Homo sapiens: one gene and its partners. The protein of the gene in region 2 purifies or fractionates together with the protein of the main gene of each other region. This does not show direct contact. Each region holds a gene or a part of one and is shown on either strand. Other genes may lie near its edges. The genes, in order: ANKHD1, EIF3M and USP34.

What was found.
Region 1: the proteins of EIF3M (region 2) and ANKHD1 fractionate together in Homo sapiens (co-fractionation; one large-scale study listed by BioGRID). This does not show direct contact.
Region 3: the proteins of EIF3M (region 2) and USP34 purify together in Homo sapiens (affinity purification with mass spectrometry; 3 studies listed by BioGRID and IntAct, with this or other methods). This does not show direct contact.

Annotation. Positions count from the first base shown.
Region 1 is NC_000005.10:140,408,214-140,411,867, forward strand, and holds part of ANKHD1 (ankyrin repeat and KH domain-containing protein 1), read left to right. Parts: intron 1-3,654. UniProt on the Homo sapiens protein: May play a role as a scaffolding protein that may be associated with the abnormal phenotype of leukemia cells. Isoform 2 may possess an antiapoptotic effect and protect cells during normal cell survival through its regulation of caspases.
Region 2 is NC_000011.10:32,593,764-32,597,417, forward strand, and holds part of EIF3M (eukaryotic translation initiation factor 3 subunit M), read left to right. Parts: intron 1-102; coding exon 103-186; intron 187-1,150; coding exon 1,151-1,250; intron 1,251-2,202; coding exon 2,203-2,284; intron 2,285-3,654. UniProt on the Homo sapiens protein: Component of the eukaryotic translation initiation factor 3 (eIF-3) complex, which is required for several steps in the initiation of protein synthesis.
Region 3 is NC_000002.12:61,464,525-61,468,178, reverse strand, and holds part of USP34 (ubiquitin carboxyl-terminal hydrolase 34), read left to right. Parts: intron 1-3,654. UniProt on the Homo sapiens protein: Ubiquitin hydrolase that can remove conjugated ubiquitin from AXIN1 and AXIN2, thereby acting as a regulator of Wnt signaling pathway.

The DNA of each region.
Region 1 (3,654 bases), on a different chromosome or scaffold from region 2:
TACTTGTTGAAAAACTCAACAATATAGATAGTAGGTATAAGGGGAAAAGTAAAAGTGCTTCTTCCCACCCCCATTAATTCTTCAAATTCTACCCTTCAAGGTAACCAATATTAAAATTTTTCATTCAGTAAATTTTCTAGGCCTATCTTTCTATGTATATATGTATATATGTTCATATACACATACTTTAAAGGCATATCAAATTTAAAAGTGTAGCTTTATATCACACTGAGGTTTTTTTCTTGAAGCAGGTGCTGTATTTACAATTATATAAAAGCACGCAGAAATTGTATTTAGCTCTGAAAATATAGCACAAGCTTTGTAGGGATTCCTTTTTCCCTGAAAATTACTTTTAACATCAAAAGCAAAAGTCATACAGAAATCCCATCCTGATTTTCTCCAGTAGGTAAGGAGTTGGGTCATATCCTTTAAGATTGTTTATGATCTATATATAATCTGTTTTTTAATTTTTAATTAAATTTTTTTTACCGTTATGTGTTTTGAGAGATGGGGGTCTCGCTTTTTTGCCCAGGCTGGCTGTTGCCCTGGCTACACAGTGCGGTGGCATGGTCATAACTCTATGTGGTCTCCCACTCCTGGGCTCAAGCAATCCTTCTGCTTCAGCCTCCCAAGTAGTCAGGACTACAGGGGACTATAGGTGTGCACCACAATACTTGGCTAGTATGATCTATAATCTAGAGCAGTTTCTCAAGAGCAACATATAGACATTTTGGGACAGAGAATTCTTTGTTGTGAGGGGCTCTCCTGTGCATTAGAAGCATCCCTGGCCTCTACCCACTAGATGCCAGTAGAACCCGATTATGATAGCCAAAAATTGTTCAGACGTTGCCAAATGTCTCCTAGGGACAAAATCACTCCTGGTTGAGAGCTACCGGTCTAGAGGCCACTCTTGTCAGGAATGGTAGTTTTGTTATACTCTGTATTCAAACTTAAGGTAAACAAGGTGAGTCACTGCTTTTAATAGCATTTCAGGACTTATGCTTATAACCTGAACAAGGGAGAAATAGAAGGTACTGAAAGGTTTAATATAAAACTAGCATGCACTGCTGTAAATTTTCTATGGTAAATGTATCATTTTGGGGAACTTTCACTTAAAATATATTATTTTTCAAAAAGTTCAGTTGTCCATGAAAATGAATTTTTAAAAAACTTTTATGGGGACTTCCAGTTTGTTCAAAGTAGAAATGCTTTATTCCATAAATTATCATTTGTAGTGATAACATAGGAAATATAACTTTGTATTCTAGTGGGCTAATTTTGGAGACTTTGGAAATGCTTATTGAATAAAAAGAATTATATGTTATTACTGTAACAATTTTTTTTTTTTTTTTTTGAGTCAGAGGAGCCTTGCTCTGTCACCCAGGCTGGAGTGCAGTGGCAGGATCTCGGCTCACTGCAGCCTCCACCTCCTGGGTTCAAGTGATTCTCCTGCCTCAGCCTCCTGAGTAGCTGGGACTACAGGCCCGTGCCACCACGCTCGGCTAATTTTTTGTATTTTTAGTAGAGACGGTGTTTCACTGTGTTACCCAGGATGGTCTCGGTCTCCTGACCTTGTGATCCACCCGCCTCAGCCTCCCAAAGTGCTGGGATTACAGGTGTGAGCCACCGCGCCCAGCCACAATTTTTTGTATGTTGCACAAATATCAACCTTTCACAAGCTTCATGATGTAAAGCCTTAAGACTTTACATATAAAATGATGCATTGATAAGTATATTTATGTGAATGGTGGGGTTGATGCAGAGTTGATTAGTATGGGTGGAGGAAAACTTTTTGGGAAACTTTAAGTATGAGAGGTTTTTGTTGTTATTAGTATATTTTCAATAGATAATTACATTCATATAGTTCATAAGTCAAAGTAATATAAGGGCAGATACAGTGAAGTCTCAATCTCACCCTGCTCCCACATATCTTGCTCTTTATACTTTTAATAAAAGTATTATATAGCCTTTCAGAATTTCTTTATGAAAATACAACTATGTGTATTTTCCCTACTGTTACACAGATGGTAAGATGCTATTTATGTGAAATTTTTAAATGGTAAATTTGAGAAGGATTTAGACTTTTTTAAAAAATTAAAGTGATAAATTATGTTATGAATGAAGGATGGAGGTGAGTTTAAGCACATTCCTTTCTGAGTCTATTTGTTAGTAGAGTGCTGATTGACTAGATGAATTCAAAATCAGTTCTGGCCTTCTGATTCAGTGATCACTAATATAAATAAAATATGTTACTTTAAAGAAAAGCAAAACAGTTTTAAACAGTTTTAGCCTTGAATTGGCAAGTAAACAAAATAAATGACAAGTTTACCAAATTTTTTTTTTTGGCCAAATTTACTTTCTCAGAACTAAAGTTGTAATAAATAAAATCAATTCTTTTTTTAAACCCACTATAAAGGAACTGTTTCAATGTATCTGTCTTCACAGACCTTATTGATCACATTTCCCTCTCCTATTGCTTGTCTATAGAGTCATAGAATCTTGGTGATAATCCTATCTCATCTCATTTTTAGGTAACTGCTACCATTTATTGAATGCTTATTATATACCAGTACCGTACTAGATACTTTCGTTATTTTATTTAATCGTTTCATCACCCCTTTGAGGTAGGTATTATCTACATTTTTATAGATGAATAAGTGTAGGCTCAGAGAGTTTTTAGAGTAATGAATCTAAAAAACAAAAAAATGGTTAAAATGTTATATGGCTAGTGACTGGTAAAGGTGGGATTTGAATGTGATACTGAATTTAGAGCCCATACTGTTATTTTGCTTCAAATTAAGAAATATGTAGTTTTTGGTTACCAAATGCTGTTTTTTAAATAAATCATTGTTTAGTTCCTATTGAAGTTTTCACAGATGTAAAGTAAAATGGAGAAAATAAGCAGGATGTAGTGAATTTCTAATGAAGCTATTTTTTCCCACTTTTTTCTATTTTGACAAATACTCTTCCTACTTTTACAAAATGAATTTTTAAAACTATCTGTACTTAACAGAATATCAACTGGAAACTTCATTTGGGACCCTGGATAAAAGCCTCAGAAGTCTGGGAACTGTTGAGCTAAATGACTTGCCCAGATCACACAGTTAATATGTAGCAGTCAAGACTGAAAAATAGGCCATCTGATTCCCATTCTAGTTATCCTACCTTCCAGATTCTCCTAACTTTCTTTTGATGCATTATATTAATGAGTTTAATTAGTTGCTTATAAATGCCTCTTTCAAACTATTATAGTTTATAATCCATAGTTGATCTTGTTGGAAAAGTTTTTTTTTTTTTTTGGCTGTTTTTTTTTTGGTTTGTTTGAGAACGGAGTCTCACTCTGTTGCCCAGGCTGGAGTGTAATGGTGCAATCTTGGCTCACTGCAACCTCTGCCTCCCGAGTTCAAGCAATTCTCCTGCCTCAGCCTCCTGAGTAGCTGGGATTATAGGCGGCCACCACCATACCCAGCTAATTTTTTTTTGTATTTTTAGTAGAGATGGGGTTTCACCATGTTGGCCAGGCTGGTCTCGAACTCCTGACCTCAGACTATCTGCCCACCTCAGCCTCCCAAAGTGCTGGGATTATAGGCTTGAGCCACTGTGCCTGGCCTTTTTTTAAATTTTTTTTTTTTTGAGACAGGGTCCCGTTATGTC
Region 2 (3,654 bases):
ACCGTTATAATGTCATCAGCACAGTACCTGCCTCTTAAAAATATTTTAAATGAATGAATAGCAGTAATGCTTTCAAGTTCCTAAAGCAATATTTCTTTTTAGTGATGCTGCTTCAAAAGTCATGGTGGAATTGCTCGGAAGTTACACAGAGGACAATGCTTCCCAGGCTCGAGTTGATGCCCACAGGTAATGTTAAACGTTACTCTGATGAGGGTTTGACAGCGATGTAGAGGTAAGCTACAATATTAAATTAAGTAACTGAAATCATGTTTGCAACTACCAGTGATCCAGAGCCATTTGATAGTGTGTATTTCCTGGTGATTCTAATGTAGATACTAAAATTCAAGGTTTGATATTGGAAGAACTGTGGATTGAATATGAAGTAGCTGCATGGCGTTTACCTGGCGGGGGGGGTATTGCTGGTATGGGGATGATGATCCCAACCCAAGAATTAGAACCTAATCTTGGGCCAATTGACCCTAATTTTAAGGTTATAGGTGGAAAGTTGATGGCTTGCCAAAAATTAACCCATTGCTAATGAGTATAAGGGCTTTTAACAGTCTTAGATCTAACTGGTAACAAGAATAGAATCAGTTTTCTAAATCTATGTAATAAGGATTATGAAACTTCTTTTTTTGGTCATTGCTTTGTGTGGACCTCTACATGATAGGAGTTGGTAAAAAGGGAAGTTGGTGGTAAAGATCCTTGACTTTGAGGTCAGGCTGCCTCCATTCACATTCTTACTCCACCTCTTAATGAGCACTTCTGAACTGCTTCATAGTTGATAAAGGGGGCAGAGTAATACTGTTTGTCTCCTAGGTTGTTGTGAGGAATAAATGAGATGTAAGGCAAGTGAAGCACTTAGTGTCTTGGCATGTGGTTCTGCTGCTGCTTACTATTTGATTACCTTGGTGCTTTCTCTCCAGCTATGTTTTTATCTACAATTAATATATTTCATTTTGTTAAAACAGATGAACCTGATAAATGTGTTGGCCTGTCTTAACCCAATCCTGTAGCTTTTTTAATGTTGTTTATATGTTTTGGACTGTTAGATATTTTGCCGAATTAAGTATATTTTATGATCTGCAAAAACTCAATGAAAAGCCAGGATTTCAAAACCCTGAGCTTACATTTTTGTTCTCTAATTAAGGTGTATTGTACGAGCATTGAAAGATCCAAATGCATTTCTTTTTGACCACCTTCTTACTTTAAAACCAGTCAAGTTTTTGGAAGGCGAGCTTATTCATGATGTAAGTAGTTTATCCTTTAATGTGAAAAATGTTCTCCTTTCCTAAATTTTACATACTGAAGCAGGACTCTTTTTCTTTGCATTAATAAAAGTGACTAATGGCAAGATATGGAAAGATTAAGAACTATGTATTCTTTTTATATCAGGAACAGACATATTTAGGACCAGCTTTTCTTCATCCACTGAGCAGAGTCCTATTCTTCCTCCCTTTCTTAATTTCTTTTTTTTTTTTGAGACTGAGTCTCACTCTGTCACCAGGCTGGAGTGCGGTGGCATGATCTTGGCTCACTGCAACCTCTGCCTCCCTGATTTAAGCAATTCTCCTGCCTCAGCTTCCAGGAGAAGTAGCTGGGATTACAGGCACATGCCATCAGGCCCAGCTAATTTTTGTATTTTTAGTAGATACAGAGTTTTGCCATGTTGGTCTGGTCTCCGACTCCTGACCCCCCTGACCCCAAATGATCTGCCCACTTCGGCCTCCCAGAGTGCTGGGATTACAGGCGTGAGCCACTGTGCCCGGCTACCTCCCTTTCTTTCATCTTCTCACTTACTCATCATTATAGACTTAGATAATACAAGTTTCTTTTTTATTACATATATATTGTTCCTAGCCCCACTTAGGAATATAAGTCTGATATTTAAAAACACATGAACATTTTTCAAATGCAAGTATAAATATATTTTGGACTGTTGTGCATCTGGACTATGCCATTAGCCATCATCTTTCAGTGTGGATAATTTAGAGCTCAGTGTATTTACTGATTATTTCATTTTAAAAGTGAGCCATGTGAAAGCAGATGGTTTGGTAATTTGATGAAACAGAATGATATTTCTGCCTTGAACAAAATGTAGGAGTCAGTATCTTTAAAATAATATTTACAATATCTTAGAATATCTTACAATAAATCTGAATTCTGTATTGATGGTATCTTTTTTGTCTCTTATCTGTATAGCTTTTAACCATTTTTGTGAGTGCTAAATTGGCATCATATGTCAAGTTTTATCAGAATAATAAAGACTTCATTGATTCACTTGGTAAGTTTTGGGGTTTATTCTTTGAGGCACAGAGGTGGGAACATGATACACTAACAGTTATGTACTATGTGTTCCAGCAAGTATGGCTGTGGCCTTATTTGTAGATTATCCTAAAAGGAGTCGTGTATGATAGAACAGCACAAAAATAGGTAGACAGTTTAAAATATTACTTAGAATGAATTGAGAATCAGAAACCAAGAAGGTGTAGGAGGTGGCATTTGTGATAGAAAGAGAATGAAACTGGGAGTATGAAAACAACTCGGGGCCCAGCGCGGTGGCTTAGAGGTATAATCCCAGCACTTTGGAGGCCGAGGCGGGCGGATCACGAGGTCAGGAGGTCGAGACCATCTTGGCTGACTAACATGGTGAAACCCTGTCTCTACTAAAAATACAAAAAATTAGCCGGGCGCGGTGGCGGGTGCCCGTAGTCCCAGCTACTTGAGAGGCTGAGGCAGGAGAATAGCTTGAACCCGGGAGATGGAGGCGGAGGTTGCAGTGAGCCAAGACTGTGCCACTGCACTCCAGCCTCGGCAACAGAGCAAGAGTCTGTCTCAAAAAAAAAAAAAAAAAAAAGAAAGAAAAGAAAACAACTTAGCACTTGTAATCCCAGCACTTTGGGAGGATGAGGTGGGTGGATCACTTGAGGTCAGGAGTTCAAGACCAGCCTGGCCAACATGGCAAAACCCCATTTCTACTAAAAATACAAAAATTAGTGGGCATGGTGGCACATACCTGTAGTGCCAACTACTCAGGAGCCTTAGGCAAGAGAACCACTTGAACCCGGGAGGCAGAGGTTGCAGTGAGTTCAGATCACACTGCTGCACTCCAGCCTGGATGACAGAGTGAGGCTCCATCTCAAAAAACAAAAAAAAAAGAGAGAGAAAATGACTTGGAACCTTTTTGTCTCATTTAAGAGCTTGCTGAACTTTAGGCCCTTCCAGCTCTTCTGTACCATGATTCTTTGAGGTAAAGTTATATCAACAATCGGGTGTTTGGAGAAGATTGAAGAAATAGTTCCATTGGTACATTTGTTTTTAAAATTTAGAGATGGAGGAGTGAGCAGAAAAGCAACTGAAAGAATTACCATTACTTTGATCATAATGGTAACTTTCAGAAATGTTTTAAGAGCTGATAAAATTTGATGATTAAAGGTACTTTATTAAGCTAAACATTATTCTTAAAATAATATTGTTTCTTTGTAGAAGACTTTATTCCTTAGATATATGGTGATTTGTATTTTTGGTCCCTTTTTTTAAGCCATAGCCACAGAATGGTAACAAATAGTTTTTTCCCCCCTACTATACTATTTTATGCTTGGATACCCCCGCCATTAACAAATTACAAAAGTATATAGTATTGCCAGTTAGATC
Region 3 (3,654 bases), on a different chromosome or scaffold from region 2:
AATTACATGTGTAGTTTATACCACACTATTAAAAGTTGTTTTTTTTTCTGTAGTTCTTTGCTTATCCGTGGCTATGATGGAGCATGATAATGAACATGAGTGGTTGGAGCTTGATAAAACTTGTTGAAGTAGATTATATGTGTTTCTTGTGATCTCATTTGCAGTAATTACCTATAAAGTCTGCCCTTTTCCCGCCTGTACCTTGTACAAAGATGAGCATCAGTTCAACGTTGATTTAGAAATTCAGAGTTGGCCGGGCAACTCTGAATACAGCTCACGCCTGTATTCCCAACACTTTGGGAGGCCGAGGTGGGCGGATCACAAGGTCAGGAGCTCGAGACCAGCCTGGCCAATATGGTGAAACCCCATCTCTACTAAAAATTCACCAATTAGCCGGGTGTGGTGGTGTAGGCATCTGTAGTCCCAGCTACTTGGGAGGCTGAGGCAGGAGAATTGCTTGAACCCTGGTAGGCGGAGGTTGCAGTGAGCCGAGATCATGCCACTGCACTCCAGCCTCGGCCACAGAACAAGACTCCATCTCAAAAAAAAAAAAAAAAAAAACAAAGTTACAGTCCTCCCAAAATGTGCTCAGAATTCATCTTTAAATACGACACCCTGTAACAGTTTAGCCAGCTGAGAGAAGCAATAAAATTGTGCATATTTTTGGGTGGTGTGTTTCCAGGTCATGCTGAAAAATACGTAATTAGTATTAAAGCAACCTCACAAAACAGTCAGACGTGGTGGTGCGCCCCTGTAATCCCGCCTCGGCAGGAGGCTGAGGCAGGAGGATTGTTTGAGGCCAGGAGTTCGAGACCAGCGTGGGCAACATAGTAAGACTGCTTTTTTTATTATTATTATTTTTTTATTTTTTATTTGGAGACAGAATCTCGCTGTGTCACCCAGGCTGGAGTGCAGTGGCACGGTTTCGGCTCACTACAACCTCTGCCTCCCTGGGTTCAGCAATTCTCCTGCCTCAGCCTCCCAAGTGGCTGGGATTACAGGCACACGTCACCATGCCCAGCTAATTTTTGTATTTTTAGTAGAAACGGGGTTTCACCATATTGGCCAGGCTGGTCTGAACTCCTTACCGTGTGATCTACCCGCTTCCGTCTCCCAAAATGCTAGGATTACAGGCGTGAGCCACCGCGCCTGGCCAAGACTGCTGTCTTGAAAAAACAAACCAAAAACACTGTTTCTTGTGAAATTAACAAACAGTGATCACACTTAGAGAAGGCTACCTGGGCAAACGAGTGTAATAAATTTTTTTTTTTTTTTTTGACACGGAGTCTAACTCTCACCCAGGCTGGAATGCAGTGTCGGCTAGCTGCAACCTCCACCTCCCGGATTCAAGTGATTCTTCTGCCTCAGCCTCCTGAGTAACTGAGACTACAGGCACCCGCCTCCTTGCCTGGCTAATTTTTGTATTTTTAGTAGAGGTGGGATTTTGCCATGTTGGCCAGGCTTGTCTCAAACTCCTGACCTCAGGGGATCTGCCTGCCTGTACCTCCCAAAGTGCTGCAATTACAGGAGTGAGCCAGCATGCCTGGCCTAAAAATTTTGTTTAAAAAATTTTTAGTTGATAAATAATAATTTTACATATTCATGGTGTACATAGTGATGTTTCAATACATAAAACGTATAGTGATCAGTTGAAGTTAATTAGTATATCCATCTCAAACATTTAGCATTTGCTTTGGGAACATTCAGTATCCTCCTAGCTATTTGAAACTGTATCATATATTATTGTTTTTTTGAGATAGGGTTTCTTTCCCATTGCCCAGGCTGGAGTGCAGTGGTATGCTCTTGGGTCACTACAGCCTCCGCTTCCTGGGCTTAAGCAATCCTCCTGCCACATCCTCCCAAGTAGCTGGGACTACAGGCATGTGCCACCAAGCCCGGCTAATTTTTGTATTTTTAGTAGAGATGGGGTTTCACCACGTTGGCCAGGCTGGTCTTGAACTCTTGAACTCAAGTGATCTGCCCGCCTTGGCCTCCCAAAGTGCTGGGATTATAGGCATGAGCCACCATGCCCGGCTTGTATCATATATTATTGTTAACCGTAGTCATTCTGTAGTAGTACTTATTCCTTCTATCTCACTGTAATTTTATATTCTTTAACAAATCTCTCCCTATCCCTCCCCTCCCTCTACCATTCCCAGCAAATTTTGTTGTGTTTTTGTTTATTTTATTTTATTTTTTTTTGAGACAGAGTCTTGTTCTGTCACCCAGGCTGGAGTGCAGTGGCGCCATCTCTGCTCACTGCAAGCTCCGCCTCCCGGGTTCACGCCATTCTCCTGACTCAGCTTCCCGAGGAGCTGGAACTACAGGCGCCCGCTACCACGCCCGGCTAATTTTTTGTATATTTAGTAGAGATGGGGTTTCACCATGTTGGCCAGGATGGTCTCGATCTCTTGACCTCGTGATCCACCTGCCTCGGCCTCCCAAAGTGCTGGCATTACAGGCGTGAGCCACCGTGCCTAGCCGTGTTTTTGTTTATTAATAGAGACAGGGCCTTGCATTGTTGCCCAGGCTGGTCTCAAACTCCTGGTCTGAAGCCATTCTCCTGCCTCAGCCTCCCCAAGTACTGGAATTACAGGCATGAGCTACCATGCCTGGCCAGTTAATTGTGTTTTAAATGAAAGGGTAGACACAAGTGTGGGTAGTATAGCTTTGTATTAGATATGCACAGACTTTTTGATAAGAGTAAGGACTTAATGTGGAATGTTTAAAGTTTGGCAGAATGCAGTATCGTTAAAAGTAACAGATTATGAACAGTTCGTTTTGTCATCAGTTTTTGGTGAGAGTATTAATATTATTAGTTATACCTCTAGTCCTGAGAATCTGAAGCTGTAAACTTTCACTGTGGAAACATGCAGAGGCATACAGACACAGAATTGTGCTTACAGGTTGAGGACCCGTTGAAGTTTGTTCCTGGAACCAGACTAAGGATCCTATCATAAGTACCCTTGCCCCACCACACCCACCCTTTTTAAATATAATCTTGACACATATCATAAAAGTTGAAACTACATTTCAAAATCATATTTGGCTTTAGTGTTAGAATAACCAATCCCAACAATACTAAAATACTGGACTTGCCATTTTCTTTTCATGCTTCATTTTAAAAACATTTAAAAAGCTTGGATGTATTGAGTAAATTTTGCTGTTATCATTTTGTGGGATTACATTCTGTTTAGGATAAATTTTAAATTTCTGTTCCTCTGCTTGTTCTGTTGAGTTTGTCTGATAACTGCTTTTGTAGTTACTTTTGTGAACCAGTTTACAAAGGCCAAAGCATTTCTAGATCTTGGTGAGGAGTTGGAGGCTTAAAATTACATGCTTTAGGCCATCACCATAGCAAACTCACTAGTAAACTGAGGTTATTTACCTCGTAAGGTAAATTTCTCTGAAAGCAGAGTGAAAATTACATAGTACCTCTTTTTTTTTTTTTTTTTTTTTTTGAGACGGAGTCTCGCTCTTTCGCCCAGGCTGGAGTGCAGTGGTGCGATCTTGGGCTCACTGCAACCTCCGCCTCCTGGGACTACAGGCGTGAGCCACCACGCCTGGTGTACGTCATTGTTTTAAACCACTTATGTGTTGTAGATTTTACTCTGTGTATTCGTTTGGTGGGTTATAGTTTACCAAGTTGTCCAA